Regions from separate parts of the Homo sapiens genome. Here regions 1 and 2 are each linked to region 3. The links come from fine-mapping of genetic effects on gene expression. A gene starts in region 3. Each other region holds a variant in brackets. All regions are shown on one strand. Distances are from middle to middle. Region 1 has its middle 48 kb from the start of CRYM. Region 2 has its middle 51 kb from the start of NPIPB3. Region 3 holds the start of LDAF1 (lipid droplet assembly factor 1).

Region 1 (10,716 bases), 170 kb after region 3:
GGAGCAGCTGTAAATACAGATGAAGCTTTGCTCGCTCACCGGCCGCTCACCTCCTGCTGTGTGATATGGTTCCTAACAGGCCATGGACCGGTACCAGTCCATGGCCTGGGGTTTGGGGGCCCCTGCTCTAGGACAAACCAAAATAAACTATACTTCCTCACTTGGAAAATGAAAATAATAATAGTGTCTTATTTATAGGGTAGTTGTGTATATGTGAAGTATTTAGAGCAGTTCTCAGCACATGGTAAGTACTCAGTAAAGACTAGATTTATTGGCCAGCCGGGTGCAGTGGCTCATGCTTGTAATCCCAGCACTTTGGGAGGCTAAGGCGGGTGGATCATGAGGTCAGGAGATTGAGAGCAGCCTGTCCAACATGGTGAAACCCCGTCTCTACTATTAAAAACACAAAAATTAGCTGGGTGTGGTGGCGGGCACCTATAGTTCCAGCTACTCTATTACTGAGACCAGCCTGACCAACATGGGTAAACCCCATCTCTACTAAAAATACTAAATTAGCCAGACGTGGTGGTGCATGCCTGTAATCCCAGCTACTCAAGAGGCTGAGGCAGGAGAATCACTTGAACCTGGGAGGTGGAGGTTACAGTGAGCCGAGATCGTGCCACTGCGATCCAGACTGCGCGGCAGAATGAGACTCCATCAAAAAAAAAAAAAAAAAAAAAAAGACTGGATTTATTATTACTATAGGAAACACAACTTTCTGCTCTGCCACCATCTGTGCTGAGTATCACCATAAGGCCAGCCTGCCAGTGACTATTTGGAAAAGCTGTAGCATCTAGCAATACTTCCAACGTGTCTTCTGTTTCCCAAATAGTAATACAAAATATGAAACAAAATGAACAGTAGAGGAAACATTTTGAACAGGAAACCATGTCTATCTCCTCTGTAAACCTGTCCATTTGAAATGTGGATTACTGCATCTTGGATTCATTCAAGGCAATGGAAATAACCAAACTTTCTGCCTTCAACTACCTGGTCCAAGGAAATCAATCCTGTCTTTCCTCTCTAATCTTAATCTTCCCACCTGGATCTTGTGGTTTTAAGCCTGCCTAGTCATAAAGGCCAACTGCAAATATTTCAGCTTTATTGGAACTCAAGAGCATTCTGGGTTTGTTCTTTGTGATTCTTCCCTTTTATTTCACTTCCACCTAACTTTTAACCTTTTTTTTTTTTTTTTTTTTGAGATGGAGGAGTGTCACTCTGTCACCCAAGCTGGACTGCAGTGACCCAATCTCGGCTCACTTGGCAACCTCCACTTCCCGAGTTCAAGCAATTCTCCTGCCTCAGCCTCTTGAGTATCTGGGACTACAGGCACCTGCTACCACACCTGGCTATTTTTTTTGTATTTTTGTTAGAGATAGGGTTTCACTATGTTGGTCAGGTTGGTCTTGAACTCCTGACCTCAAATGATCCACCTGCCTCTGCCTCCCAAAGTGCTGGGAATACAGGCGTAAGCCCCTGCGCCTGGCCGCTTTTAACGTTTGATGTTATATTCCATTTCCAGCATCTAGCTCTTAAATTTTGATATTATGTTCTATTTCCAGCTGTGTCCTTTTTTTTTTTTTTTTTGAGACAGAGTTTCACTCTTGTTGCCCAGGCTGGAGTGCAATGGTGTGATCTCGGCTCACTGCAACCTCTGCCTCCCAGGTTCAAGTAATTCTCCTGCCTCAGCCTCTCGAGTAGCTGGGATTACAGGCATGCACCACCACATCCAGCTAATTTTGTATTTTTAGTAGAGATGGGGTTTATCCATGTTGGTCAGGCTGGTCTCAAACTCCTGATCTCAGGTGATCCACCCACCTCGGCCTCCCAAGGTGCTGGGATTACAGGCGTGAGCCACCGCGCCCAGCCTACCTTTTTTATTCTTAAGAGTGGACTTAGTTTTACCAACTTTGATGATTTGAATTCTCTGAGGCCCATGTCTCCTCCTGCTCCTGACCAGCTCTTGTAGGTTCCCCCCTGATTCCAGCCCCCAAGAAGCTACTTTCAGCTTTGAAATTTATGTGCCAGCTTTGCCTACCCCCTGAGAAAGGGAGATTAGATCAGGTGCTTTGCATCTGGTATTTTGCAGTTTTACCAAAAGTGATGATTATGACCCCTCAGCGTAATTTCATAGCCACCAACAATGTTCTTAGGTTTGGATAGCAATCCAAATATACTTTAAGCTACCATCAGATTAAACTGTCTTAAGAAAGTAGAATTAACTGTCATTATTTGTGGATTCTGAATTTGTGAATTCAACAACTCACTAAAATTTATGTGTAACTCAAAATCAGTAACTGTTTCACTTTTGAGGTCATTTGCAGACATGCAGGGAGTGGCAAAAAATTTTGAGTTCTCCAAGGGTGGTTCCCAGCCTTGGCCAGGTCAAAGAAGATGACACCCTGTCCACCTTGTTTCAACCCTCATACTGCAAACAAGTATTCTTGACTTGATATAGTTAGTGCCTTTTTTTTTTTTTTTTTGCATCTTTGTTCTTTATGTTGGTGATTTTGTTGTTTAATGTCAGCCCCAGGCATAGTGCTGAAGTACTGTCTCATGTTCCTAAGTGCAAAAGGGCTATGATTATGTCTTTTTTTTTTTTTTTTTTTTTTTTTTTTGAGACAGATTCTTACTCTGTTGCCCATGCTGGAGTGCAATGGCGTGATCTCGGCTCACTGCAACCTCCACCTCCCCCAGCTCAAGCCATTCTCCTGTCTCAGCCTCCTGAGTAGATGAAACTACAGGCACACACCACTGCACCCAGCTACAGTTTTATATTTTAGGAGAGATGGGGTTTCACCAAGTTGGCCAGGCTGGTCTAGAACTCCTGATCTCAAGGGATCTGCCCACCTTGGCCTCCCAAAGCGCTGGGATTACAGGCATGATCCACTGTGCCTGGCCCTGATTATGTCTTTTGGAGAAAATATCTATGTTAGAGAAGCTTAATTCAGGCATGAGTTATACTGCTGCTGGCTGTGAGGTCAGTGTTAGTGAATCAACAGTATGTATTAAATAAGGTGTCTTTAAACGGAAACACCCCAAAAAACAGGTCGTGTATTGATCAATTGATGAAAATGTGACCAGAGGCTTGCAGGAACCTAGGAGTATTTTCCCTAGGAGTAATCTTTCAGTATTCCCTAACTCAAGTGTCTGTGATGACTTTATAGAACATAACCAAGAATGATGAAAATGGATGGTGTCCAGGATGGGAACATAACATGTACAGCATCAGCACTTTCATATGAAAGTCTCCCAACAGCACAGGTGCAGCTGTACGTTCCACCAGTACACAGGGCACATTCAGTTCAAGAGCTGAGGTCGATACGGTGTAGACTCTGTAATTATATGGAAGCCTCCACTTTTGTTTGCCAGAATTTGTGCAAAGTCCTACTTACTTTCTTCTCAAGTCAAGTGTAGTCTCTAGACGAGATATATGGCAGCAAACAATGTTGATGATGAGTTCCAGGCACTGCTAACATTCTGTATTTTTAAACTCAGCACATACCTAGGCACAGTGCTGCCAGAGAGTAAACTCATAGTTATCTTAGTGGGTACACCTGGGTCCAGGAAAATAGGATTTATGTTTGCTATTTACCCTTTCCTCACAATAATAAATCTGCAGGTTTTTTTTTTTTTTTTTTTTTTTGAGACAGAGTTTTGCAGTTGTCGCCCAGGCTAGAGTGCAGTGGTGCGATCTTGGCTCACTGCAACCTCTGCCTCCCAGTTTCAAGGATTCTCCTGCCTCAGCCTCCCAAGTAGCTAGGATTACAAGCATGCACCACCACGCCCAGCTAATTTTTTGTATTTTTTAGTAGAGATGGGGTTTCACCATGTTGGCCAGGCTGGTCTTGAACTCCTGGCCTCAAGTGGTCCACCCGCCTCTGCATCCCAAAGTGCTGGGATTACAGGTATGAGCCACCACACCTGGCCAAAATCTGCAGTTTTATATCAAAATGTATCATCAGTGACAGTCCCTAAGGGCAATTGCATGTTTTTCTGACACCATAGTTGTATCACAATATATCACAACTGTTAGCATTATGGACTAGAAAAGCAGTACATTTACTGTTTTTTCAAAACTAATTGGACTATCCTTGATACCTACCATCCCCAGCCTGTTTGAGATGCAGTAAGGGGCTCAGGTTGGTGCCAAAATATTGGGCACACCCTCAGCCATGAGTTACCATGATTAGCGGCAAGCGCAGATGAAGCCTTGTCCTGGTGTGTGCCCTTGGGTTCTTTGAAGCTGATGAGTGATTTAGAACATTGGCAGCCAAGTATAAGCTGGTCATATGGAGTCACACATGAAGCTGAGAGATGTCTGATTCATCTCATCATGAAAGCTGTTACTCTTATCAAAATTTCATCAACTTTGGGGAATGATTATGTTGCTGACTAGAGATCAACATGGAAATCTGGGTATAAAAAGCAGTCAGGGAGGCTGGATCCTTTCTTTCAGTGGCTGCCTCAAATCCAGCAGGCCCTTGAATAATGTCATTTTGTCCAACGTCATTTTGTTATAATTTTGATGGGAAAAAAGAAATTGATTCCCAGCCCGGGCTGTTGTCAGT[G/A]TGGAGCTTGCATGTTCTCTCCGTATCTGTGTGGGTTTTCTCTGGGCATTCCAATTTTCTCCTGCATCCCAAAGATGTGCACTTTAGGGGAATTGACGTGTTGACATTGTCCCAGTCTAAGTGAGTGTGAGGTGTGCGTGACTGTGCCCCGTGATGGCATTCATCCAGTCTAGGGTTGGTTCTTGCCTTGTGCCCTAAGCTGCAGGGACAGGCTCTGGCCCCCTGCGACCCTGAACTGGAATAACTATCTAAATCATTATTTTACTTGTGTTTGTTAATCTGTCTTAAATGTATATATGGCTCACATTATTTATTTCAGTGTTTAATATTAGAAGTGTTTTGGTATTTATTTAGATGTTTGGTGATGTTTTTCTGACCCCCGAAAAAAGAAAACAGTAATATACAATAAAAACTTAACTCTTTTTTTTTTTTTAATTTTTTTCAGAGACAAGGTCTTGCTCTGCTACCCAGGCTGGGGTGCAGTGGTGCAATCATAGCTCACTGTAATCTCAAACTCCTGGGCTCAAGTGTTCCTCCCACCTGAAGCTCCCAAGTAACCGGGATGACAGATGTGGGCCACTACTCCTGGGCTAATTTTTTTTTAATTTTGTAGAAATAGAGTCTCACCATGTTGGTCAGGCTGGTCTCAAACTCCTGGCCTCAAGCAGTCCCCCTGCCTCAGCCTCCCAAGTTCTGGGATTACAGACATGAGCCACCATGCTGGCCCTTAACTCTTGTTTATATCAATTAGATTATGGCAAAGTTAGTTTCGTTATACATCATTTCACTTAAAGTTACAGTTTCCAAGAACCTATTGATGATGATAAGTGAGGGCTTACAGTACATGTCTTGGAGATAAATCATTGTGAATGCACAGTCACCTCTCAGGCTAAATAAATATTAACTCAGGAACACCAGAATCCAGGTCAGTTCCAGAATCTGACCTCATTCTTCCCTCTTCCCTTTGGATAAAGGTGTTTCTTTGTTTATGAGAACTATAGGAATGCCTCATTTTTATGCAAATATAAAGCAAGTGCCCAACCACCGCATTCACCTAAATGCAGATGTTTTGGAGGCTCAAAACTCAAGGGTCTCCACCCAGGATCCCTACATACAGAAAAGACACTTGTCCAGGATGGGGGCTAAATCTTTGGAGTTGAGTGTTATGTTTTTATTTTGCTTTGTTTTTCATAGTTTTTTGTGCAAAAAATGAGTGGAGCAAAGTAGCTGAGGGAACTGACTGTATGCTAGTCTTTTTGAGATTCAGAACTAGTGATACGTTGGAGTCCAGGTGACAAGTGTGGCAGGGAGTGGAAACCCTGTTGAGAGACGGGGACTTGAGAAGCATGGAATAGTACCTTTGGTGAGGATGTTGATGTTCTCTCAAGCTATTCCATCTACATTGGCAATGATGAGGCTCCCGATGGAAGCTTTTGAGAATCAGACTATTGGGGATTTGCTGCAGGAAGAGTTGTGACAATCAAGCCATTTAAATCTGAGTAATAAAACCGCATGATATTTCATTTTCCCCTGCAGGCTTTTGAAGCCTTTGATATCCTGTTTACATCAAACACATTTACTCCTAAGAAAATCTTTAGTGTATACAATTCCACATACAGATATTTTAAATGACTAACTACTTTGGCTTAGAAGAGTACAAATGACACCCCAGTCTTTTAAAATTTCAATTAGATTAAGTTTAATCTAGGCTAAATTCATTGATTGATCACCTCAAATATTGAAACATAATTGCCTCAAATATTGAAACAATAAAGTAGTATTGTTCCTTAATTTCTTAGTATTTTCTCTACTAGAGATTCTCTTATTGTAGGATTTTGAATGAATTTCATGGATGGTTTCTTTTCTTTTCTTTTGAGTGGAGTTTTGCTCTTGCTGCCCAGGCTGGAATGTAATGGCGAGATCTCGGCTCACTGCAACCTCCGCCTCCCGGGTTCAAGCAATTCTCCTGTCTCAGCCTCCTGAGTAGCTAGGATTACAGGTGCCCTCCACTATGCCTGGCTAATTTTCGGTATTTTTAGTAGAGACGGGGTTTCACCACGTTGGCCAGGCTGGTCTTAAACTATTGACCTCAGGTGATCTGCTTGCCTCAGCCTCCCAAAGTGCTGGGATTACAGGCGTGTATTACGGGAAGTCAGGGACCCCGAACGGAGGGACCGGTTGAAGCCATGGCAGAAGAACGTGGATTGTGAAGATTTCATGACATTTATTAGTTCCCCAAATTAATACTTTTATACTTTCTTAATGCCTGTCTTTACTGCAGTCTCTAAACATAAATTGTGAAGATTTCATGGACACTTATCACTTCCCCAATGAATACCCTTGTGATCTCTTATGCCTGTCTTTAATCTCTTAATCCTGTCATCTCGTAAGCTGAGGAGAATGTATGTCGCCTCAGGACCCTGTGATGATTTTGTTAACTGCACAAATTGTAGAGCATGTGTGTTTGAATAGTATGAAATCTGGGCGCCTTGAAAAAAGAACAGGATAACAGCAATGTTCAGGGAACAAGAGAGATAACCTTAAACTCTGACTGCTGGTGAGCTGGGCAGAACAGAACCATGTTTCTCTTCTTTCAAAAACAAATGGGAGAAATATCACTGAATTCTTTTTCTCAGCAAGGAACATCCCTGAGAAAGAGAATGCCTGAGGGTAGGCCTCTAAAATGGCCCCCTTGGGTGTGGCCATCTTTTATGGTCTAGCTGTAGGGATGAAATAAGCCCCAGTCTCCCATAGTGCTCCCAGGCTTATTAGGATGAGGAAATTCCTGCCTAATAAATTTTAGTCAGACCAATTGCTCTCAAACCATGTCTCCTGTTAAGATGTTATCAATGACAATGGTGCCCGAAACTTCATTAGCAATTTTAATTTCGCCCCAGTCCTGTGGTCCTGTGATCTCACCCTGCCTCCATTTGCCTTGTGATATTCTATTACCTTGTGAAGCACAAGATCTCTGTGACCCACACCCTATTCGTACACTCCCTCCCCTTTGAAAATCACTAATAAAATCTTCCTGGTTTTGCGGCTTGTGGGGCATCACAGAACCTACCGACATGTGATGTATCCCCCGGATGCCCAGCTTTAAAATTTCTCTCTTTTGTACTCTGTCCCTTTATTTCTCAACCTGGCCGACGCTTAGGGAAAATAGAAAAGAACCTACGTGACTACTGGGGGCAGGTTCCCCAATAGGCGTGAGCCACCTCGCCCAGGCAGATCTGTTTTTTATTTCCCTTTAAGATGGAACTTCCCTTTTTTTGAAAAAATTTTACTTTAAGTTCTAGGGTACATGTGCACAATGTGCAGGTTTGATACATAGGTATACACATGCTATGCTGGTTTGCTGTACCCATCAACTCGTCATTTACATTAGATATTTCTCCTAATGCTATCACTCCCCCAGCCTACACCCCACGACAGCCCCCGGTGTGTGATGTTCCCCACCCTGTGTCCAAGTGATCTCATTGTTCAGTTCCCAGCTATGAGTGAGAACATGCAGTGTTTGGTTTTCTGTCCTTGTGATAGTTTGCTGAGAATGATGCTTTCCAGCTTCATCCATGTCCCTGCAAAGGACATGAACTCATACTTTTTTATGGCTGCATAGTATTCCATGGTGTATATGTGCCATATTTTCTTAATCCAGTCTATCATTGATGGACATTTGGGTTGGTTCCAAGTCTTTGCTATTGTGAATAGTGCTGCAATTCACATACGTGTGTATGTGTCTTTATAGTAGCATGATTTATAAACCTTTGGGTATATATCCAGTAATGGGATTGCTGAATCAAATGGTATTTCTAGTTCTAGATCCTTCAGGAATCACCACACTGTCTTCCACAATGGTTGAGATAATTTACATTCCCACCAACAGTGTAAAAGCATTCCTATTTCTCCACATCCTCTCCAGCATCTGTTATTTCCTGACTTTTTAATGATCGCCATTCTAACTGGTGTGAGATGGTATCTCATTGTGGTTTTGATTTGCATTTCTCTGATGACCAGTGATGATGAGCATTTTTTCATGTGTCTATTGGCTGCATAGATGTCTTCTTTTGAGAAGCATCTGTTCATATCCTTTGCCCACTTTTTGATGGGGTTGTTTATTTTTTCTTATAAATTTTTTTGAGTTCTTTGTAGATTCTGGATATTAGCCCTTTGGCAGATAGGTAGGTTGCAAAACTTTTCTCCCATTCTGTAGGTTGCTTGTTCACTCTGATGGTAGTTTCTTTTGCTGTGCAGAAGCTCTTTAGTTTAATTAGATCCCATTTGTCTATTTTGGCTTTTGTTGCCATTGCTTTTGGTGTTTTAGTCATGAAGTCCCTGCCCATGCCTATGTCCTGAATGGTATTGCCTAAGTTTTCTTCTAGGGTTTTTATGGTTTTAGGTCTAACATTTAAGTCTTTAATCCATCTTGAATTAATTTTTGTATAAGGTGTAAGGAAAGGATCCAGTTTCAGCTTTCTACCTATGGCTAGCCAGTTTTCCCAGCACCATTTATTAAACAGGGAATCCTTTCCCCATTTCTTGTTTTTGTCAGGTTTGTCAAAGATCAGATGGTTGTAGATGTGTGGTGTTATTTCTGAGGCCTCTGTTCTGTTCCATTAGTCTACATATCTGTTTTGGTGCCAGTACCATGCTGTTTGGCTACTGCAGCCTTGTAGTATAGTTTGAAGTCAGGTAGCATGATGCATCCAGCTTTGTTCTTTTGGCTTAGGACTGTCTCGGCGATGCGGGCTCTTTTTTGGTTCTATATGAACTGTAAAGTAGTTTTTTCCAATTCTGTGATGAAAGTCATTGGTAGCTTGATGGGGATGGTGTTGAATCTATAAATTACCTTGAGCAGTATGACCATTTTCACGATATTGTTTCTTCCTATCCATGAGCATGGAATGTTCTTCCATTTGTTTGTGTCCTCTTTTATTTCATTGAGCAGTGGTTTGTAGTTCTCCTTGAAGAGGTCCTTCACATCCCTTGTAAGTTGGATTCCTAGGTATTTTATTCTCTTTGAAGCAATTGTGAATGGGAGTTCACTCATGATTTGGCTCTCTGTTTGTCAGTTATTGGTGTATAGGAATGCTTGTGATTTTTTCACATTGATTTTGTATCCTGAGACTTTGCTGAAGTTGCTTATCAGCTTAAGGAGATTTTGGGCTGAGACAATAGGGTTTTCTAAATACACAATCATGTCATCTGCAAACAGGGACAATTTGACTTCCTCTTTTCCTAATTGAATACCCTTTATTTCTTTCTCTTGCCTGATTACCCTGGCCAGAACTTCCAACCCTATGTTGAATAGGAGTGGTGAGAGAGGGCATCCTTGTCTTGTGCCCGTTTTCAAAGGGAATGCTTCCAGTTTTTGCCCATTCAGTATGATATTGGCTGTGGGTTTGTCATAAATAGCTCTTATTTTTTTGAGGTACGTTCCGTCAATACCTAGTTTATTGAGAGTTTTTAGCATGAAGTACTGTTGAATTTTGTCAAACGCCTTTTCTCCATCTACTGAGATAATCATGTGGTTTTTGTCACTGGTTCTCTTTATGTGATGGATTATGTATATTGGTTTGCATATGCTGAACCAGCCTTGCATCCCAGGGATAAAGCCAAACTGATTGTGCTGGATACGCTTTTTGATGTGCTGCTGGATTTGGTTTGCCAGTATTTTACTGAGGATTTTCGCATTGATGTTCATCAGGGATATTGGTCTAAAATTCTCTTTTTTTGTTGTGTCTCTGCCAGGCTTTGGTATCAGGATGATGCTGGCCTCATAAAATGAGTTAGGGAGGAGTCCCTCTTTTTCTGTTGATTGGAATAGTTTCAGAAGGAATGGTACCAGCTCCTCTTTGTACCTCTGGTAGAATTCGGCTGTGAATCCATCTGGTCCTGGACTTTTTTTGGTTGGTAAGCTATTAATTATTGCCTCAATTTCAGAGCCTGTTATTGGTCTATTTAGGGATTCAACTTCTTCCTGGTTTAGTCTTGGGAGGGTGTATGTGTGCAGGAATGTATCCATTTCTTCTAGATTTTCTAGTTTATTTGCATAGAGGTGTTTATAGTATTCTCTGATGGTAGTTTGTATTTCTGTGGGATTAGTGGTGATATCCCCTTTATCATTTTTTATTGTGTCTATTTG
Region 2 (10,716 bases), 210 kb after region 3:
AGTGACAGAGCTCAGCCCCTTGTTGGCACTCTGCTCTGCCAATCCATTTGTGCCTTGCAGTCAGGCTGGCTCAGTTTGGGATGTGACAGATTTAGGAGCACTTGTATTCACTGAGTTCTCAGGCTGGCACATGAGTGAACTTGGTTTACCTTTGTTCCTGGCATGGCTGATACCATGTGTGGCTGATTCTGTTAGAGTGTGCCCTCAGATTCATCCCTCTGTCTTCTTTGGCTTTGATAGAACCCAGATTTTGCTTGAGGCTGTGGTATGTACTCCTTTATCTCGGTGAGGGATTAAGCCAGTTTTGAGTTTTGTTCTTTGCTTTCTTTGCTCCCTTGTGATTTTCTGGGATTACTTGTTCTTTCCTGATAAAAGGGGCGATAAAGCTGGCTTCATCCCATTCCCTTTCTTCCTGCTCAATTGTAAATGAGATGCCCAAAGTTAGGACAGTCCTCTGTGACAGCGAGGTCAAAAGGTTGGAGGTTTTGGCCTGACATAGCCTTTGTATCACTGGCCTATTTCCAGACTAGCCCAGCTCCATGGGGTTGGATTTTCTTTGTGTGTGGGTTTTTTTGTTTTGTTTTGTTTTTAGAGACAGGGCCTTGCTCTGTTAACTAGGCTGGAGTGCAGTAGTGCAATCATAGCTCATTACAGCCTCAAACTCCTGGGGTCCAGCCATCCTCCTGCCTCTGCCTCCCAAGTAGCTGGGACTACAGGTGTGTGCTGCCACACTCGGCTCCTTGTAGTTGGGTTTTCTGTTTCCTTTTTTTAGAGATGGGTTCTTACTATGTTGCCCAGGCTGGTCTTGGGTTTTCTGTTTTTTTCTTTTTTTTTTTTTTTTGAGACAGAGTCTTGCTCCATTGCCCAGGCTGGAGTGCAGTGGCACCATCTCGGCTCACTGCCAGCTCCGCCTCCCGGATTCACACCATTCTCCTGCCTCTGCCTCCCAAGTAGCTGGGAGTACAGGCGCCCACCACCACACCTGGCTAATTTTTTGTATTTTTAGTAGAGATGGCGTTTCACCGTGTTAGCCAGGATGGTCTCGATTTCCTGACCTCGTGATCCACCTGCCTCAGCTTCCCAAAGTGCTGGGATTACAGGCGTGAGCCACCGTGCCCGGCGGGTTTTCTGTTTTTTTTGTTGTTGTTGAGCAATGCTTTGTTTTGGGGCAGTGTTGTCACATTGATGAGACACCCCTCACCCCCCATGGCTGTGGAGCACAGGTGTTGCTCAGCACTTGGTGTGTTCTTGGTCTTCTATAGATGATTGTCAGATGACTGAAGAACATGCCCTGTCTCACTGCATTATTTCCTGTGGTTGCAAATGATAGAAAATTCTTTAGATTGATTTAAGAAAAAAAAAGATGAAGGACATTTATTTATTGACTCAAGTATCTAAGAAATCATCTTGGAGTTGAGCTGGATTCAGGGGGCCTGCCCTTCTCCCAAATCTGTCTCCATCTGTCATCCCTCAGCACCGCTTCTCTGTGGTTGGGTGTCTTTCCAGGTGGGGGGTCTCTACATGATGGGGTGGAAAATGGCCCCAAGTAGCTCCAGGTTTCCAGGATGATGAGAGATCCTACTTCTAGGACGGGGTCGGCACACTCCCTCCTTATGGGTCATATTATAGGGTTTGTGAGCCATGCAATCTCCATCGCAGTGACTCAGCTCTGCCACTGGAGCAGAAACTCAGCCACAGACCATATGGGAGCAAATGGGTGTGGCTGCGTTCCAAGACCACTGTGCTTACAAAAACAGTTTGGAGGCCAAATTTGACCCCCAGGCCATTGTTTGCTGACCTCAGCTCCTGGAGGAGACAAGGCCTCTTTTCTGGTGGCTCTGGTAGAACTTGTGCGAAGGGACCCTGTGGTCCAGGGCTGAGACTGGGGTGAGGTTAGTGACACACTCACTTTGGCCACAAAATTGAAGGCGGTACCAAAAAACTTATCAATCAAGATAAATACTATTTTTATGTAATATTAAAAAAAAATGAAAGTTGCATATGCCATGGTTCCGGCCAGTTAATTGCCTGCCCTGGGTTAGCTGTCCACCCCTGCAGTAGGGGGAGGTTAGGATAGTGCTGAAGGATCCCAGTGGAATGTGTTTCCCATAGGAAAGAGGGGTGGTCTTACTAGAAGAAAGGGAAAGGGACCAGGCTCGGTGGCTTACGCCTATAATCCCAGTGCTTTGGGAGGCCGATGCTGGATGATCATTTGATTCTAGGAGTTCAAGACCAGCTTGAGTAACATAGTAAGACCCTTGTCTCTACAGAAAAAAATAAATTAGCCGTGTATGGTGGTGTACACCTGTAGTCCCAGCTACTCATGAGCCTGAGATGGGAAGATCGCTTGAGCCCAGGAGTTCAAGACTGCAGTGAACTATGATCGTGCCACTGTGCTCTAGCCTGGGCGACAGAGTGAGACCTTGTCCGCACCCCACCCCTCAAAAACAAAACAAAACAAAACAAAACCCCAAACAAGGAAAAGGAATGCTGTTTGGTGCACGTGTAGTAGTGATATTAATAGTTGGTTTTCGTTGAGCACCAATTATATGCCAGGTATGTTAATAACTATGGCTAACATTTATTCACTGCATTTATTGGATACACTTTACATGTATTCCTTTTTCTCATTTTTCCCTCATAGCAATCCATACACATAGGTACTGTTCTCCCCACTGTACAGATGAAGAAAGTAGAGGACAAAATAAGTTTCCCAAGGTCACACAGTGCCTGAACTAGAATTTGGGACAAGGTTTTTGTCTTCCTTGTGGTCCCCAAGGAATGAATTCTTGGGCATCGGTGATAGTTAAGTCTTGATAGAAACTTTCCCAAAAGCCTGGTGCTGTTAGTCATCCTCTGTTAATAGGTGTCCCGGGGCAGCTCTTCTCAACACCCCTTCCTGGCACTTGTTCTTGTTGGCATTCGGCTTTCAGGTGTTTGGAGAACCAGAAGCCCTTGCCCGCTTTTTGACTTAACCCCATGTTTCAAAGCAGATCAGTGTATATCCCTAAATTAAATTACGGACACCGCAGGCGCTAATTGGCAGGTGAGCTGCCCTTTAAATAGACCACATTAACTCTGGCAGTGGAAGCGGAACCCTGCTGGGATAATTCTTATCATCAGCAGCATCACCCTGACAAGCTTTAAAAGGATTCTGTAGCAGTAAGCAATTTTGCAGAATTGAAAGGTGAAAACACACTTTAAAGCGTTCATGTAGATTCAAGGTCGGAGGGAGGTGACTGCATTTTTCAAGACAGGCTGCAAGTGAGAGTCACTTGACTGGAAATGTGATGGACGTACCGACAATGGTCTGGGGTATTTTGAAATACGTTGTTGGCCGGCTGGCCCAGGGCGTTGTTGTCGCCAGATTCCCCGTCCTGGTTTCTGAGTGAGGCGGAGAGTGGAAGGAAGGCTGTTTTGTACAGTTGTGTGGATTAGACTGATCGGATGAGCTTGGGAAGTGGATTAGTTTGACATTTAGGGATTGAGACAGAAGACAGTCTTGAGGGACCTGCCCTCTTGCTGGTTTTTGTTATTCCTGGGAAGTTTATCCTAAATGATCCCAGTGATTGTCTTGATCCACAAATACTTATGCACGCTCATACGGATGTATACATTTAGATGCTGCTAACACAAAAAGGAACCCACGCGAATGCCCTCTGCTATGAAGAGAATTAATTATTAAGCAAATGCTGATTGGTCATCATGGACTGGGCACTGTGCTCGGTGCTTTCCTTCCCTTTCTAGTTACCCCAGTAACCCTGGGCGATTCTGCACTTTTGTGTTGATTTTATGGGAGAGGATTTTCAGGCTTAGCATGGTTGAGTGACTTGCTCAAGGTCATTTGGTTGAATGGACTTTTTCTCTGTTGTCCTGCCTGCTAGACTGGAAGCCCCTTAGGGACGAGTTCTTGTTGTCTCTAGCTGGTGACACATAGCCTAGCTTGGTTCACAGCTCCCAGGAAGAATGCAGTGGATCCTAGTGAAGTTGAATTGAAACATTAGAGTGAACTTAACTAGCCTGCCATGCAGTTTCTGGAGATGGGTGTACTTGCCTCCTTCTGGAAGGCAGGTTCAAAGCCTTTGTCACATTTCAGAGGGGACTGTGAGCCTGTTTAGCTCCTAGATTGGAAGCCAGGTCCGACTGCAAAGACTCAGCTTCCCCCACTTGGAATATTAAACAGTTGTGAACGTGATCATTTTGAAGAGGGCCAAGTCCCCTCATTTTGCAGGGCAGTGTGATTTAGTGGTTTGCAGTGAGCTCTGGGGTCCCTTTCTGCCATACTGTTTACTAACTGTGTTGCTGGGCGAGTCACTTCACTTGTCCTGGCTTCAGACCTTGTCTTTCACATGGAGATGGCCTTGGTTGTGATGATGTCAGATGTAAAGTGTTTACTGCAATGGCTGGTGCATAGTTAATGCTCAGTAAATAGTA[G/T]TTGCTGTTGCTGCTGTTATTATTATTGCCAGCATGAAAAAATGTTAAAGAGCCAATGTTAAGTGAAGAAAATTGATCACAAAATTATGTATACACTAGCATTACAACTATGAAAATATCTGGGGTTGGGCAAGGTGGCTCCTGACTGTAATCCTAGCATTTTGGGAATCTCAGGCAAGAGGATCGCTTGAAGCCAGGAGTTTGGTACCAGCCTGCACAACATAGCAGAATCTCATCTCTACAAATAAATAAAAATTAAAAAATTAGCTGGGCATGGGGGTGCGTGCCTGTGTCTCAGCTACATGGGAGGCCGAGACAGGAGGATCACTTGAGCCCAGGACGTTGAGGCTGCAGTGAGCTCCAGCCTGGGTGACAGAGGGAGAGGCCCTGTCTCAAAAATAAATAAATAATAATTAACTTAAAATGTATATAAAAAATTTTAAAAATCTGTGTACATGTGGATAAAAAGTGGTGGGATGTGAGGAGATACAAGTAGTTGTAGGAATGACCGTCTTATGGATAAAAACAAACTTTCTTAGGTTTCCCATAACGCCTTAAATCTGTTCCTATCCTCAGACTGAGTAATTTGACATGTGGAAATCTTTCCTAAGGAACTAGGAATGAGGACAATTATTTATGTATAGGGGTGTTCTTTACTGTACAGAGGGAAAGTTGGCCATGTGCCATGCCCTTAGCAGTATGGAAATAGTTGTTTTACTGGAAAGCCATCAAAAATCATCTTTGAAAGACTTTTAATTGTAATAGGAAAATGTTCATGCTCTAGACAAGAAAATAAATGAATCAGGATACAAAATTACACATACAAATATGTATGCGTATACACTCATACAATATGATGTGGTTTTATTTATTTATTTTTTGAGACAGAGTGGAGTATAGGGGCATGATCTTGGCTCTCTGCAACCTCCGCCTCCTGGGTTCAAGTGATTCTCCTGCCTCAGCCTCCCAAGTAGCTGGGACTACAGGCGTGTGCCACCATGCCCAGCTAATTTTTGTATTTTTAGTGGAGACATGGTTTCACCATTTTGTCCAGGATGGTCTCGATCTCTTGACCTCGTGATCTGCCTGCCTTGGCCTCCCGAAGTGCTGGGATTACAGGCGTGAGCTACCGCGCCAGCCTGTTTTTTTTTTTTGAGACAGAGTCTTGCTCTGTCGACCAGGCTGGAGTACAGTGGTGCGATCTCGGCTCACTGCAACCTCTGCCTCCTGGGTTCAAGTGATTCTCCTGCCTCAGCCTCCTGTGTAGCTGGGATTACAGGCACCTGCCACCATGCCTGGCTCATTATTGTATTTTTAGTAGAGATGGGGTTTCACCATGTTGGCCAGGCTGGTCTCGAGCCCCTGACCTCAGATGATCCGCTCGCATCGGCCTCCTGGAGTGCTGGGATTACAGACATGAGCCACTGTGCCTGGCCTGATGTGTTCTTTTCTTCTGGCTGCTGTAACAAAGTAATACACAGTTGGTGGCTTTTAAACACTATAATTTATTCTCCCACAGTTCTGGAGGCCAGAAGTCCCCAATCCATTTCACTGGGCTAAAGTCAAGGTGACAGCAGGGCTGCTTCCTTCCAGAGGCTTCAGGGCCGAATCCGTTTCTGGCCCTTCCAGAGTCTGCTCGCTGCCCACCTTCCTTGGCTATGGCTGCCCCATTCTAGTCTTTGCTTCTCTGGCCACATCATGTCCTCCTCTTCTGTGTCAAGTTTCTCTCTGCCTGCCTCTTATGAAGATCTTGTGATTACATCAGCCTCACAGGGATTATGCAAGATAACCTCCCAGTTTCCAGATCCTAACACAGTTGCACAGACTCTTTTACTATATAAGGTAATATTCAGAGAATTCTGGAGCTTATGACGTCGATATCTTTGAGGATTATAATTCAGCCTACAGCAAATGTTGATTTTTTTTATAAAAAAGAAAAGTGCAGTAAAAAAGACTGAAAATTCTTGAAAATGTCAATATTGGTCTTTTCTGGATGAGAGGTTTTAGAGTCATTTTTATTTTTGATATACTCTTCTGTATCTCCCACCTTTTTTTCTTATTTCATTATTGTTTTTGAGGCTGAGTCTTGTTCTGTCACCAGGCCAGAGTGCAGTGGTGCAATCTCAGCTCACTGCAACCTCCGTCTCCTGGTTTTAAGTGATTCTCCTGCCTCAGCCTGCCCGGTAGGTGGGATTACAGGTGTGCGCCACCATGCCCAGCTAATTTTTGCATTTTTAGTAGAGATGGGGTTTTACTGTGTTGGCCAGGCTGGTCTTGAACTCCGAGCCTCAAGTGATCCACCACATCAGCCTCCCAAGTACTGCGATTACAGGCATGAGCCACCGTTCCCAGCCTCAATTTTTATTTTAGATTCAGGGTGTACATGTGCAGGTTTGTTACCTGGGTACATTGTGTGATGCCGAGGTTCAGGGCACGATTGAACCCATCTCCCAGGTAGTGAACATAGTACCTGGTAGGTAGTTTTTCCGTCCGTGCTCTCCTCCCTCTCTACTCTCTCTAGCAGCCCCCAGTGTCTGTTGTTTGCCATCTTTATGTCTGTGTGTACCCAGTGTTAAGCTTCCATTTATAAGTGAGACTATCCACTATTTCGTTTTCTATTTCTGTGTGATTCGCTTAGGATAATGGCCTCCAGTCATCCATGTTGCTGCATAGGACACAATTTTGTTCTTTTTCATGGCTGCATAGTATTCCTTTGTGTAAATGTACCACATTTTGTTTATCTAGTCCACTATTGATGAGTATCTGGGTTGATACCATGTCTTTGGTGTTATCTCCTACCTTTTCCATGCTAAGGGGATACTCTGTTACAATCTCCAACATTGCCTAGAGGCTTTGTGTGTTCCTCTCCCAGTGCTGAGTGCCCCAGGCCGAGTGCCAGGCGCCTGCACCCTCTCTCCGTAGAGCCCGTGTTCTGGTACTACGTGAAGGAGGTCCTCAACAAGCACGAGCTGCAAGCGCTTCTACTCCCTGCGCCACATCGCCTCAGACGTGGGCTGGGGCCGCGCCTGGCTGCGCTGTGCCCTCAACGAACACTCCCTGGAGTGCTACCTGCACATGCTCCTGGCCGACCGCTGCAGGCTCAGGTACGTGGCCGGGATGGGACCTGGAATGGGATGGAGCAAGGGGTGAAGATCTTGGAGTCTGTAGTCAGACCACCTGGATTTTCATCCTAGTTCCCCGATCTGGGGCAAGTGGGCCTCCCTCTGACAGCTCCGGAGTGTTCTGCTGAGCTGTGGAGAAACTTGGGGGAGAATCATTGAGAGACTGCCTGTAACGGGCTCGGCATGGCACTTGCATACAGCCAGCTTGGATGTGGAGAGAGCTGTTGTCCTAGGACATAGCTTCCTCTTCACTTTCTGGATTTTTTTTTTTTTTTTTTTTTTTTTAAAGACAGGGTCTTGCTTTGTTTCCCAAGTTGGAGTGCAGTGGCATGAACACGGGTCACTGTAGCCTGGACCTCCCTGGCTCAAGCAATCCTCCCACCTCAGCCTCCTGAGCAGCTAGGACCCTAAGTGTATGCCACCCTGCCTGGCTAATTTAAAAAATTGTTTTGTAGCGATGGGGTCTCAGTGTGTTGCCCAGGCTGGCCTCGAACTCCTAGGTTCAAGTAATCTTCCCGCCTCAGCCTCCCAAAGTGCTGGGATTACAGGTATGAGCTACCATGACAGGTGCAGAATTTTAATTTGGGATTCTTGCATTCATTCAATCCCAAACTGAAAAACACATGGAAATTTTACATTGGGGAAGGAAGTCATTTTTGTTTGTTTGTTTGTTTTTGAGACGGAGCCTCACTCTGTTGCCCAGGCTGGAGTGCACTGCTGCTATCTGGGCTCACTGCAACCTCCATCTCCCCAGTTCGAGTGATTCTCCTGCCTCAGCCTCCTGAGTAGCTGGGATTACAGGCGTGTACCACCATACCCAGCTGATTTTTTGTATTTTTAGTGCGTACGGGGTTTAATCATGTTGGCCAGGCTGGTCTCGAACTCCAGACCTCAGGTGATCCGCCTAGGCCTCCCAAAGTGCTGGGGTTACAGGCGTGAGCTACTGTGCCTGGCCGTGGCCATTACTTTTGCTCTGAGAATGGTGGACTAGACAAGTTGTTTTGTGTCCTTGAGTGATACGGAGTGACCCTGATGAATCCTGTTCTGGTTCCTTAAGTAACTTCCTGATCAGCACCGCCCAGATCTTCAACAGTGAAATTTCACTGAATTCAATAAGTGGGCAGTTTGTGAGTAGTGTGGCATGTTCCCTTGATTTTATATCTTGCCCTGTGTTCCCTAGTTTAGGTCTCCTCTTCTGCTTTATCTACTGCTGTGGTCACCTCTCTACTGGTAATGTCTCAGATCTTCTGGGATTGTGCACTGGGGCTCTTAAAAATACCCTTAAAGTTCTCTGTTGCCTGTGGCTCCTTGTTCAATTGTATGGCAAGACTCTATGTGTCCAAAATGGGAGGGCTTGGGAGCCAGGAGGACTGACACTGACGACACCTGTGTACTGCTCACGGTCGGAGTTCGGAGGCTGAGAATGTCTGGACCTCTAGGGCATTAACCAGCTTTAGTTAAGGAAAACACACTCCTGTTTCTTTCTTTCCTTTTTTTGGAGAAGAAGTCTCGCTTTTTTGCCTAGACTGGAGTGTAGTGGTGCGATCTTGGCTCACTGTAACCTCTGCCTCCTGGGTTCAAGCGATACTCCTTGCCTCAGCCTCCCTAGTAGCTGGGTCTACCAGTGCCCGCCACCATGCCTGGTTAATTTTTGGTATTTTTAGTAGAGACGGGGTTTCACCATGTTAGCCAGGATGGTCTCAATCTCCTGACCTCGTGATCCTCCCACCTCGGCCTCCCAAAGTGCTGGGATTACAGGTGTGAGCTACTGTGTCTGACCTACTCCTTTTTTTTGAAGTGAGTTTCTGTGAAGCTCCTTCCAGCATATCATTTACGGGTAGTTCAGAGTTACATACTCAGTCTCAAAGTTGAAGTGACCAACAAGGAGAAGTCAGTCCAGCAGGTAAGAATCACAGTTGACTTTACCTGGATCACCAGCCACTTCCCTAGCTGGATGTTGGGAAAACACATTCATTTAGATGCGTGAAAACGGGCTCAGATTTTTAAAGGATTATGATTTTAGGAATCAGGTGCAGTCAGAATGTCAGCTTGAGCATGTGGTTTGTACGTCTACTAACATTTTCTGGGAAAGTATATTGGAAATGCTCCTCTTCTTTCTTTCTGTCAGTTGTATTCAGTCACTTCAGTGGCTAATTTTTCCAGTCTCTCACCCAACTACAGGTCATGTATCCCTGACTTTGCTTTAGTGAAATTGACTTTTTCCTTGATTAATTTAGAATTCAATGACCTGGCGGGGAAGTTATGGCACTGGGGATTTTTGGTTTCCATTGCTTAACAGGAAGTCAGAGAGAGCTTGGAAGCTGGACTCGGGAGACCTGCTTTTAAGCCCTGGCTGGACCATTTATTGGCTAGATGACCTTGGACAGGCCCTGTAGGCTTCCTTGACACCCCTACCCCAACTGCCATCTAGATTTGTGGGGCATTTTTAGCCTCCTAGCCTTTTCCAAGGATAATGTGGGCTTTCAGGCCTGTAACCTAGGCAGGCATTATATTATTATTATTATTATTATTATTATTATTATTATTATTATTATTATTATTTTGAGGTGGAGTCTCGCTCTTTCGCCCAAGCTGGAGTACAGTGGCGCAATCTCTGCTTACCAAGCCTCTGGGTTCAAGCGACTCTCCTGCCTCAGCCTCCCGAGTAGCTGGGATTACAAGCACCTGCCACCATGCCCAGCTAATTTTTTATATTTTTAGTAGAGATGGGGTTTCACTGTGTTGGCCAGGCTGGTCTTGAACTCCTGACCTCTAGTGATCCTCCCACCCTGGCCTCCCAAAGTGCTGGGATTACAGGTGTGAGCCACCGTGCCTGGCCAAGGCAGGCATTATATTAAATGCCCTGGTTGATGAAGCCATAGAGGCTCTGTAATTTCTGTCTGAAATGGTCTCTTCTTGTATTAGGCAAATCAGGCGAGCCCTGTTGGCAGGCTTGGATTTCCTGTCTGTCTCTTGGGGACATTGCTTGAGTGGAAGTCACCCACCTGACTGCTCCGTTCCACTTTGCTGCTTTATAAATACATTTACATATCATGTCTATTTTAGTACTCTAAAGCTGAGGGTCGGGGGGGACCAGCGAGGAAGTTGTAGGATGTATGTGTTCAATCTTCTGTTTGTAACCAGAAGCTTTAAACCAGCA
Region 3 (10,173 bases):
CTTTTTTTTTTTTTTTTGAGATGGAATCTTGCTCTGTTGCCCAGGCTGGAGTGCAGTGGTATGATCTCGGCTCACTGTAACCTCCACCTCCTGGGTTCAAGTGATTCTCTTGCCTCAGCCTCCCCAGTAACTGGGATTACAGGCGTGTGCTAACACACCTGGCTTATTTTTGTATTTTTAGTAGAGATGGGGTTTTGCCATGTTGGCCAGCCTGGTCTCGAACCCCTGACCTCAAGTGATCTGCCCACCTCCGCCTCCCAAAGTGCTGGGATTCAGGCATGAGCCACCATGCCCGGCCTTGTTTCTCAATTGGGCTGCCAGACAAAACAGAAGGTGCCCAGTTAAATTAGAGTTTCAGTCAAACAATTTTTCAGGTAAAAGAATGTTTTAGGGCCGGGAGCAGTGGCTCATGCCTGTAATCCCAACACTTTGGAAGGCCGAGGCAGGCGGATCACAAAGTCAGGAGTTTGAGACCAGCCTGACCAACATGGTGAAACCCTGTCTCTACTAAAAATACAAAAATTAGCTGGGCGTGGCGGCACATGCCTGTAATCCCAGCTACTCCGGAGGCTTTGGCAGGAGAATCATTTGAACCCAGGAGGTGGAGGTTGCAGTAAGCCGAGATAGCGCCACTGCACTCCAGCCTGGGAGACAGAGCAAGACTCCGTCTCAAAAAAAAAAAAAAAAAAAAAAAGTTTTAGTATAAGCATGTCCCATTCAATACATGGGCTGTACTTGTACTTGTACTAAAAAGTTACCCATTATTTACCTGAAATTCAGATTTAATTGAGTGTCGTGTGTTTTTATTTGCCAAATCTGCCAACATGGGGAGCAGAGGTCAGCAAGGTTCCAAGTTGCCCCTGCCTCTTGTTATCAAGAGTTTAGGGTCTTAATCTGTTGCTAAAAAAATTTCACACATTTCTTATTCAGAGGCTGGTATTCCTGGCAGCTCATTCCTGAGGCCTAAAATAGTTGTTTAAGCAGAGCAACAGTTTCAATCCTTGGAGGCTACTATAGCAAAGTACCAAAGTCTGGGTGGCTTATAAACAAGAGACATTTATTTCTCACTGCTCTGAAGGCTGGAAGTTCACAATCAGGGTGCCAGGGTGGTCTGGTTCCAGTGAAGGCCCCCTTCCATGTTGCAGGCTGCCAACTTCTCATTGTATCCTCACATGGTGGAAAGAGGGTAAGAGAGCTCTCTGGGAGTTATTCTTATTTTATTTTATTTTATTTTATTTTATTTTATTTTATTTATTTTATTTTATTTTATTTTATTATTTTATTTTATTTTATTTTAATGAGCCAGGGTCTCACTTTGTTGCCCAGGCTAGAGTGCAGTGGTGCAATCTCAGCTCACTGCAGCCTCCACTGCCTGGGCTCAAGAGATCCTCCTGCCTCAGCCTCCCATGTAGCTGGGACTACAGGCATGTGCCACTATGCCCGGCTAACTTTTGTATTTTTAGTAGAGAAGAGGTTTCGCCATGTTGCCCAGGCTGGTCTCGAACTCCTAGACTCAAGCAATCCACCCACCTTGGCCTCCCAAAGTGGTGGGATTATAGGTGTGAGCCACTGGGATCTCTTTTATAAGGGCACTAATCCCATTTAGGAGGGCTTCACCTTCATGACCTAATCACCTCCCAAAAACCCCATGCCTAATCCCATCACATTGGGGGTTAGGATTTTAGAGGAACAGACATTCAGTCCATTGCAGCAAGTAATTGGGAAAGCATAGGAGAGGCTGCGCGTGGATTTTTTTAACCCAACCACTGCATGTTCCTTGAGGGCCAAGTCCTGATGCTATGGAGAGATGCTAGGATCCCAGCCCTGGAGGAACACATGATGTGATGGAGGAAGCATCTATCACACAAAGACAAGCAAAACTCTGCTGGCCCAGCCAAAAATGCCAGAGGTGGAAGGAATTTGAAGATTCACAGAGACGCCCCTAGATGGCACTCTTAAACAAAAATCCCAGTGGAAACCCTAACTCAGCTTTCCAAAGCAACTTCCATTTAGGGAATGATGATTGGAAGGCTGTAATCTAAGGAAACACACACACACACACACACACACACACAATCTTTTCCTGGGTGGGGAACCCAGCATTTTGCAGCTGAACAAAGTGCATGACGCCAGACAAGATTGGCTAAAACTTAAGAATTTAGGGATTCTTGTCTGTCCTATCCCCACCATTAGCTCTTCTTTCTGCTATTGTGGAATTACAGCAGGATTCTGTGGTTTATCATATCATTGTCGTGATCATCATCATAAATCATCATCCCAAGCAAATATTTTTGAGCCCCTACTCTGTGCCTCAATAGGTGCTAAGTTCTCGACAGCCACAGCCACACTATTGCACCAGTCCTCACTACAACCCTGTGATTGCTTCTTTTTTTTTTTTTTTTTTTTTGAGACAGGGTCTCACTCTGTTGCCCAGGCTGGAGTGCAGTGTCTTCACTGCAACTTCTACTTCCCAGGTTCAAGCGATACTTCTGCCTCAGCCTCCCGAGTAGCTGGGATTACAGGTGCGCACCACCATGCCTGGCTAGTTTTTATATTTTTAGTAGAGATGGGGTTTCACCATGTTGGCCAGGCTGGTCTGGAACTCCTGGCCTCAAGTGATCTGCCCACCTCAGCCTCCCAAAGTGCTGGGATTATAGGTGTGAGCCACCGCACCCTGCCAGCTTTTTGTTATCTAAAGACTTATTTTCCAGGTTGCTATGGCCACAGGCAAAGAGGAGAGGTCGGTCAACACAGGTCCCTGTCTGGAAAGTGGCTGAGAACTGTGCAACAGCAGACCAATGGTTGGGCTTATCCCTCTCTCTAATTTATGGTTGAAGCCATGGTTCAGAGAGGTTACTTAGTCACACAGTAAGTTGCCATCATGCTCTATAGCAGTGGTTCTCACCTCGGGACGATGGGGCCTTCCAGGGGACATTTGGCAATATTTTGAGACACAACTGGAGGTGGGGGGGGGCGGTTCTTGTAACTGGCATCTAATGGGTAGAGGCTAGGATATTGCTAAACATTCTACAATCCACAGCTCAGAAACAGAATTATTCCGCCCCAAATGTCAATAGCATACTATTCAGAAACCTTACTCTATAGGGCAGATTTGGGGCCAGGGGAAACAGGGGCTCCTGCTCCGACTTGGATCCATGCAAACCGAGGAATTTGGATTGATTTATCTTGTCTCTCTCAGCCTGGACTTTTTCATGTGTAAAATGGACATCCAATCCATCTGAAAGGATCTCACTGGCTTATGACATTCGCATTTGAGCAGTCATGGTTAAAAACTTCCAGCCAGGGTGATACTTCATCACGTGTGTGTCTTGAGCGCCAGAGACGTTCCAGAGCAGCTGGTTTTAGGCATACAGGAGGGGAAACCCTGACACCCTTGGAAAACTCATTCTCGGCTGCCAGTCTGCCTGTCTTGAAGGTGGTCTGAGCTTTCTCACTCCAAGCCAGTCGTGTGGGAAGGGACACTCTCTGAGCCTCAGTTTCCTCAGCTGTCAACCTCTCAGGGCTTGTTCTAGTGGCTCCGAAAGCCAGTGGGAGCGAGCGCGCTTTGCAAAGCCTTGGGCGCCGGGCCTTGGCGCGCCTTTGCCGGATCCTTCCGGCCACGGGCGGGGCGAGCCCAGAGGAGAAGAGCCGAGGGGCGGTGCCCGGGCCAGGGGGCGGAGGCAGGCGGCTCTGGCTCCCTCTCGGGACGCTCTTTCCTTCTTCCTCTTGTTCCTCCTCCTGCCTCTCTTCGCTTCGCCTGCAAACGCGGTGGGGGCTGCTCGGCGGTCAGGAGCAGGTGAGAGCTCGGAGCTTGGGGGTGGGGGTCCGGGTGCCCCGGGTGGCTAGACCCCTCTCGCCGGGCGGGGACAGAGGAGGAGCGCGGGGGCGACGGCGTGAGCGCGCTATCGGGGTCCCACGCCCGTAGCTTTCTGCCCCGGGGTTAGTGTAAGGGGCGTCTCCTGCTTATGAGTCGCCGGGACGGGGCTGGGAGCGCACGAGGAGACACGATTCCTCCCCACCCCTAAATGCACACTCACCCCGCCACCCCCCAACACACACACACATACACACACACACTACCACTAGATTAGGTAAAATGGTAGCTAGCACCACCACACCCCGAGACTGTGCCCCTTTCTGGGGAACCTGGGGAAGACGTCGAGGCAAACCTCCCTAGGATTATTGAAAACGGGCGCCTTCCTCACCACCCAGCCCCTCTTCTCCACCGAGGTCCCCTTCCCCATCGCTGCAGAGAGATCTGCAAGTATCAAAGGGGGCTTCTTTACCCCCAAATTAATAACTAAGTACTCGACTCCCCTCTGAGTTCCCATTATTCAGTCTCTGTGCCTTCTGGGACGCGGACCCCCTCTCCACCTGCATTTCACTCCCTTCCTCCTCTCCTTGGGTCTCCCTGGCTTTTGAACGCTGAAAGGCTGGGCCCGGATGGGGAGGGGCGGCCAGTGTGAGCTCGAGGCGCCCTGTAGCTCCCATCCCCCAACCAGAGATGTGACCCCTCCTCCCAGCTTGAACTTTCGAGGTAGCCGTTTTCCCCTGGAGGTTCGGGGGTGGGAGGGCCAGGAGATTTATTTGGAGCCTTGGAAGGGGAAAGGGTTAGCTGGTGTTGGCCTGGCCCAGTCCCCCAGGCGTGAAGAAGGCGGGGCACTCCTTGGCCGCGCCGGGTTCTCGCTTTCCCTTCTCGGGAGACAGCTCCGTGCCTGGGGAGGCCCCTCCGAGGAGTGAGTGACCAGGGGGTCTGGGAATTGGTGGCCAGGTAGACGCATTTGAAGGCTGTGGCCGATGGCATTCGCCCCACGCACTCTCTCATCGGACTCCCCAAACCGGTCTGGGTGGCACTTGAGGCTCCCAGGCCAAAGGAGACCTGTAAGGGGAACTCCGCTTGTTTCTGCTTGCTGCAGAGATGAGATTATGGGAACTGAGTGCTGGGAACATCCCAAGTTCAAGACCTACGCCAGAGGCAGCTTCAAAGAGAGAATGTGGGGTGGTGGGATTAGTCCCCTCCTCAACTTTCCCCTCCAAAGGGTTTCTTGTTTTACAAAAGGGAAGTAGCAGAGGATGTCTAGCTGGGATGATTAAAATGTGCTTTAATTTGCATACTAGACCCTGTACAGCTTAGTAGTAGATAAAATTACCCCCTATATGATAAATAAATGTGAGGATCTCTCAATTAATTTTGGCCACGTGGACACAATCTTTTAAGCATTTGTACTGTAGGTCAGGTCAGTTTAAAGGGAGAAATGGAAAAGATATCTCTGTGTCCAGCCAGTTCTGGGAAATATAAAATAAGAATGATTTTTTTTTTATATTTGAAAACTCAACAAGGGTTAAAAAATATATCTAATTTAACCAATTGCCTTTATTAAAAATAAGTAAAAATTGTATGAGATTGGGACACCCCTCAAAATTCCAGGCAGTTTAGTTAGAGTATAATTACTGTGGTGAGGTCTGCCCCCGAGGTGCAGTTCTCCTTAGCAGGGATAGACTTACCCACAAGTAAGTAGATGATGATGTATGGAATGATGGAATTGGGAGCCAACCTGTACAGTAATAAAGAAGAGAAACAGGTCAAGGCTACTGTTGTACAAGGAAAGCTTTCTAGGGAGAATAAAAGGCAATGAGATTTGAAATAGTGTGTTCAGCTTTCTTGCTTTCTGTATATTTTCAGCATTTTGTCAAGCTAAAAAATAAACATAAGCTGTCAGAGATAATACTATTAACATTTTATCATCTTTTTTTAAAAGTATCATACACATCTTTTCACATCACTAAACAGTCACACTATCATTTTAATGACTGAATTTATCATTATTTAACCAATTTTCTCCTAATGGAAATACAGTTAGCTACTTTCCAATGTTTTGCTAGTCATTATATGTTATAAACAGGGATGCAATGCACAGCCTTTTAGTACATTTTGAGATACCTGTTGGATTATTTCCATCATGTTCCTGGAATATAAATTCCTGGATTGAAGTGTGTGCAATCTGAAATTGTTGTGAATATTGCCAGGTTACCCTCCGTCTGCATGCCCACCATCAAGGTATGAGGATGGTAGAAGCTCTCGTCGAACCAGATGGATGAAGACCACTAACGGCTTTTGTTTCCTCTGGTAACAGCAAGAGACAGAGCGACATGAGAGATTGGACCGCGGGCTGCACTGGAGAATTTACTGGTAGGATAATTCATCCCTAAAGAGATTGAAGTGAGCTTCAGAATGGCAAAAGAGGAGCCCCAGAGTATCTCAAGGGACTTGCAGGAACTGCAGAAGAAGCTGTCTCTGCTGATAGACTCCTTCCAGAATAACTCAAAGGTCAGTTTCCAATCACTATGTATAATGGAAAATCCCAATATAACACTAGCATAAACAAGATAGAAAGTTATTTCTTTCTCCAGTAGAAGGAATTTGGAGGTAAGTCAAGAATCTTTCTGGCTTACCGCCCTGCCATGTCTATGCTGTGACCTTCAAACTCCTTGTCTGAGATGACTGCAAGAGCATCAGCCATTGTATCCATCTTTCAGGCAACAGGATTTGAGGAGGGGGGAAGAGAGAAGTGCAAGCCACCTACAATTTAAGGAGACTTCTGGGAGTCGCACACAATACTTCCAATTACATCCCTTAAGCCAACATTGAGTCATTTGCCACTAATGGCAAATGCAATTCTTTAGCTGGATAAAGAAGTCTGTGCAACAGATATCATCCTTTTTTTGGTTTTGTTTGGTTTTGTTGTGAATTTTGCCCTATCTGTTACCCTGAAAATGAGAGACAAAAGCCTACTTCAAGATTTGAGTTCATTGTTCCACTAGGAATCCAGGTCCGATAGAAATATGATGTGAGTCACGTATGTAATTTAGAATTTTTCTAGTAGCCACATGTAAGAAGTAAAAAGAAATAGGTAAAATTAATTTTGGCTGGGCATAGTGGCTCCCGCCTGTGATCCTAGCACTTTGGGAGGCTGAGGTGGGTGGATCACTTGAGATCAGAAGTTCGAGATCAGCCTGGCGAACATGGTAAAACCCCATCTCTACTAAAATTACCAAAATGAGCAGGTGTGGTGGTAAGGCCTGTAGTCCCAGCTACTCGGGAGGCTGAGGCAGGAGAATCACTTGAACCCAGGAGGCGGAGGTTGCAGTGAGCTGAGATTGTGCCACCGCACTCCAGCCTGGGCGACAGAGCGAGATTCCGTCTCCAAAAAAAAAAAATTATTTTTAATAATGTTTTTATTCAACCTAAGATATCAAAAATATTTCAACATGTAATCATTTATACAAAATTATTAATGAAAAAAGATTCTTGAAACATTGTACCTTCTTTTTTGAACTCCCTCTTCAAAACCCCCCGTGCGCATATTTTACACTTCTAGCACATTTCAATTCGAGTTAGCCACTTTTTAGGTATTCAGTGGCCACTCAGTGGCAATGAGACTTCAGATAGCGTTATGTTTTCTTGCATATTTATCCTTATTGCTTTCTTCTATATGTCTTTCAGCATTTTGTCAGGGAAAAGAAAACAGCTTTCAGAGATAATACTGTTAACATTTTGTATGTCATTCTAGACCTTTTTTCTATGCAATATACCTATAAAAATACATATGTATATGTAACAAAATGAACTATTTTGTGGTGTATTTTTTTTTGTATTGGATAGCACAGCGGGTCTACTCGAAGAGATGCTTGTTTGCAATCTACAACAATAAATTCTGGACTTGCTCCAGAATTTATTTGGCACTCTTTGTGGATTTACCAAGCTATTTTTAAATTGGACAAGCAGCTTTCTCGCCAGCTGGCGGGGACTCTTGTTATTAAAAGTTAGCTCAGTAAGAAGGGTCCTCCTGCCTGTTCCACATTTACAGCTGATTCTCATTAACCATGGTAGTTACGTTCTATAAAGTTACTGCAGACACTGAATTAGCACATACCAAACCATCGCTCCTAGGGGAAATACAGGATTCAGTTGCTGTGAGCCTCCTGTTCACAACATTTTTGTCAGCTGATCAGTACATAACCTCGTTTTATGTGTATTTCTGTTTAAAGACATGTTAATATATATTGTTGATCATTAACGTTGAACTCAGGGCCAACAACAGTACTATGACTCATGTCTTAAACAAAGCTAATCACACACATGTATTTTCTGCATAAGGCACATCACAGCCTTCTCATGGTTAGGAACGCTAGAGAACACTTCAGCACTACACTTGGGGACCATTTTCAACAGTAAAATCACCAAACTAAAGCATAAACGTGGCACTAAATAGACCACAGTGACACTTGTTTAAAGGATGAAACAGGAAGGCTCGGTGTCACCTTGCTTGACCTCAGCTGGGAATGTACGTGGCAGGTGACTCCACTTTTTGCTGTTGTGGACGTGTCCACTAATGACCTCAAAAGCACTGCAGGCCAGGCGTGGTAGCTCACACCTGTAATCCTAGTACTTTGGGAGGCCGAGGCGGGTGGATCCCTTGAGCCAGAAGTTCAAGACCAGCCTGGCCAACATGATGAAACCCCTTCTCTACGAAAAATACAAAAATTAGCTGGGTGTGGTGGTGTGCGCCTGTAATCCTAGCCTCTTGGGAGGCTGAGGCACGAGAATCGCTTGAACCCAGGAGGTGAAGGTTGAAGGGAGCCAAGATCACACCACTGTACTCCAGCCTGGGTGACAGAGCAAGACTCTATCTCAGACAAAACAAAACAAAACAAAAAGCACTGCCAGTATTCATTTTGAGGTTACAAATAAATTTCAGTGAGGAGGCAAATTTACAAATATGGAATCATGAGTAATAAGGATTGACTGCATATTTCTTGGCACTGACTGTATGCCAAGCACTGCACTAGGCATTCACCCTGGCCCTGTCTGAACTTAGTTAATAGTCACGTTCACCTGCCTTTTTTGTTTGTTTGTTTTTGTATTTTTAGTAGAGACGGGGTTTCTCACCATTTTGGCCACGCTGATCTCCAACTCCTGACCTCAGGCAATCCACCCACTTCGGCCTCCCAAAGTGCTGGGATTATAGGCGTGAGCCACCGCACCTGGCCACCAGTGGTTGTAAATGGTCCTGACCCTTCGTCTTTCTCCTGTTAGGAAGAGATAATGAATCATTGATTGTTTTTTGCATTCTGATACCAGGGAATTTGCCTGGCTCCTGAATCATCCAAGTTTCAGTCTTCATGTTCTCAAATACTGGCCACTTTGTCCCTAGTTTAGAAGCCAACCGCCTTTGTCTGACCTTGGGCAAGTCACTTAGGCTCACTGAATTTCCATCTCCTTTTTTAAAATTTTTTATTTATTTTTTATTGAGACAGAGTCTCACTCTGTCTTCCAGGCTGGAGTATAGTGGTGTGATCATGGCTTACTGTAGCCTCGAACTTCTGGTCTCAAGCAACACCTCCAGCCTCAGCCTCCTGAGTAGCTGGGACTACAGGTGCACACCAGCATACTCAGCTAATGTTTTATTTTATTTTTTGGAGAGACAGCATCTTTCACTGTGTTGCCCAGGCTGGTCTCAAACTCTTGGCCTCAAGCAGTCCTCCTGCCTTGGCCTCCTGAAGTGCTGGGATTACAGAAGTGAGCCACCATGCCCAGCTGCCATCTCCTCTTTTCTAAAATGAGCAATGTCAGGCTCAGAGGTTTGTTATGAAGATTATCTGAGATGCTGTTTGAAGCTTTAGCACAGAGGGTGGCGCATAATGTTGTCAGTCTGTCTCAGCCTGGCCTTCCTGGGCTCTGCAGTGCTGCACTGTGCTTACAGAGCCTAGATTGGGTAACCTGTGTCTACCTCCAGGCTGGTGATGGAAAATCACAGTGCATGTTACTGAATAATAACCTCTCCCACTTTCCATCTTTCCATTGCATCCCCCTCTGTTGCCATGAGAATGAAATGTTAATTGCTACGTTCTACCCCCCTGAGTTTAAATAGTGTTAGGTCGTTCTTTTTTACCTACCTCGTAGCATTGTAGGAAGAAATAAATGAGGAAATAATACGAGAGGTGCTTAAAGCAGTGCCCAGCACCTGAGTGTTTAATGAATGTTCTCTGTTATTATTAGGTGTGGTTGAATCGTGTCCTCCCCTCCTGGGACAGACTGGCTGGAGCTCAGCTGTACTTCCTGGGAGAAGACAATTTCTGGGTTTAATCATCTGAATCTTGGTCTCTTTGCAT

The links.
Region 1: its variant is fine-mapped to the expression of LDAF1 in whole blood (INTERVAL, PIP above 0.99).
Region 2: its variant is fine-mapped to the expression of LDAF1 in whole blood (INTERVAL, PIP 0.92).

What each region holds. Positions count from the first base shown.
Region 1 is chr16:21,321,186-21,331,901 of GRCh38, forward strand. No RefSeq gene overlaps it. Among named protein-coding and RNA genes, the nearest start is that of CRYM, 48 kb to the left of the region's middle. The variant G/A (reference allele first, on the strand shown) is at 4,572.
Region 2 is chr16:21,369,292-21,380,007 of GRCh38, forward strand. It overlaps the pseudogene SNX29P1. Among named protein-coding and RNA genes, the nearest start is that of NPIPB3, 51 kb to the right of the region's middle. The variant G/T (reference allele first, on the strand shown) is at 4,435.
Region 3 is chr16:21,154,951-21,165,123 of GRCh38, forward strand. It overlaps LDAF1 (lipid droplet assembly factor 1), which reads left to right and starts at 3,724. Exons shown (of 5, transcript NM_001301771.2): 1 at 3,724-3,796; 2 at 6,135-6,328. The coding sequence starts at 6,233. It also overlaps a transcript of DNAH3 not described here. RefSeq lists silencers at 3,604-3,733, 3,784-3,963 and enhancers at 4,221-4,721, 4,856-5,005.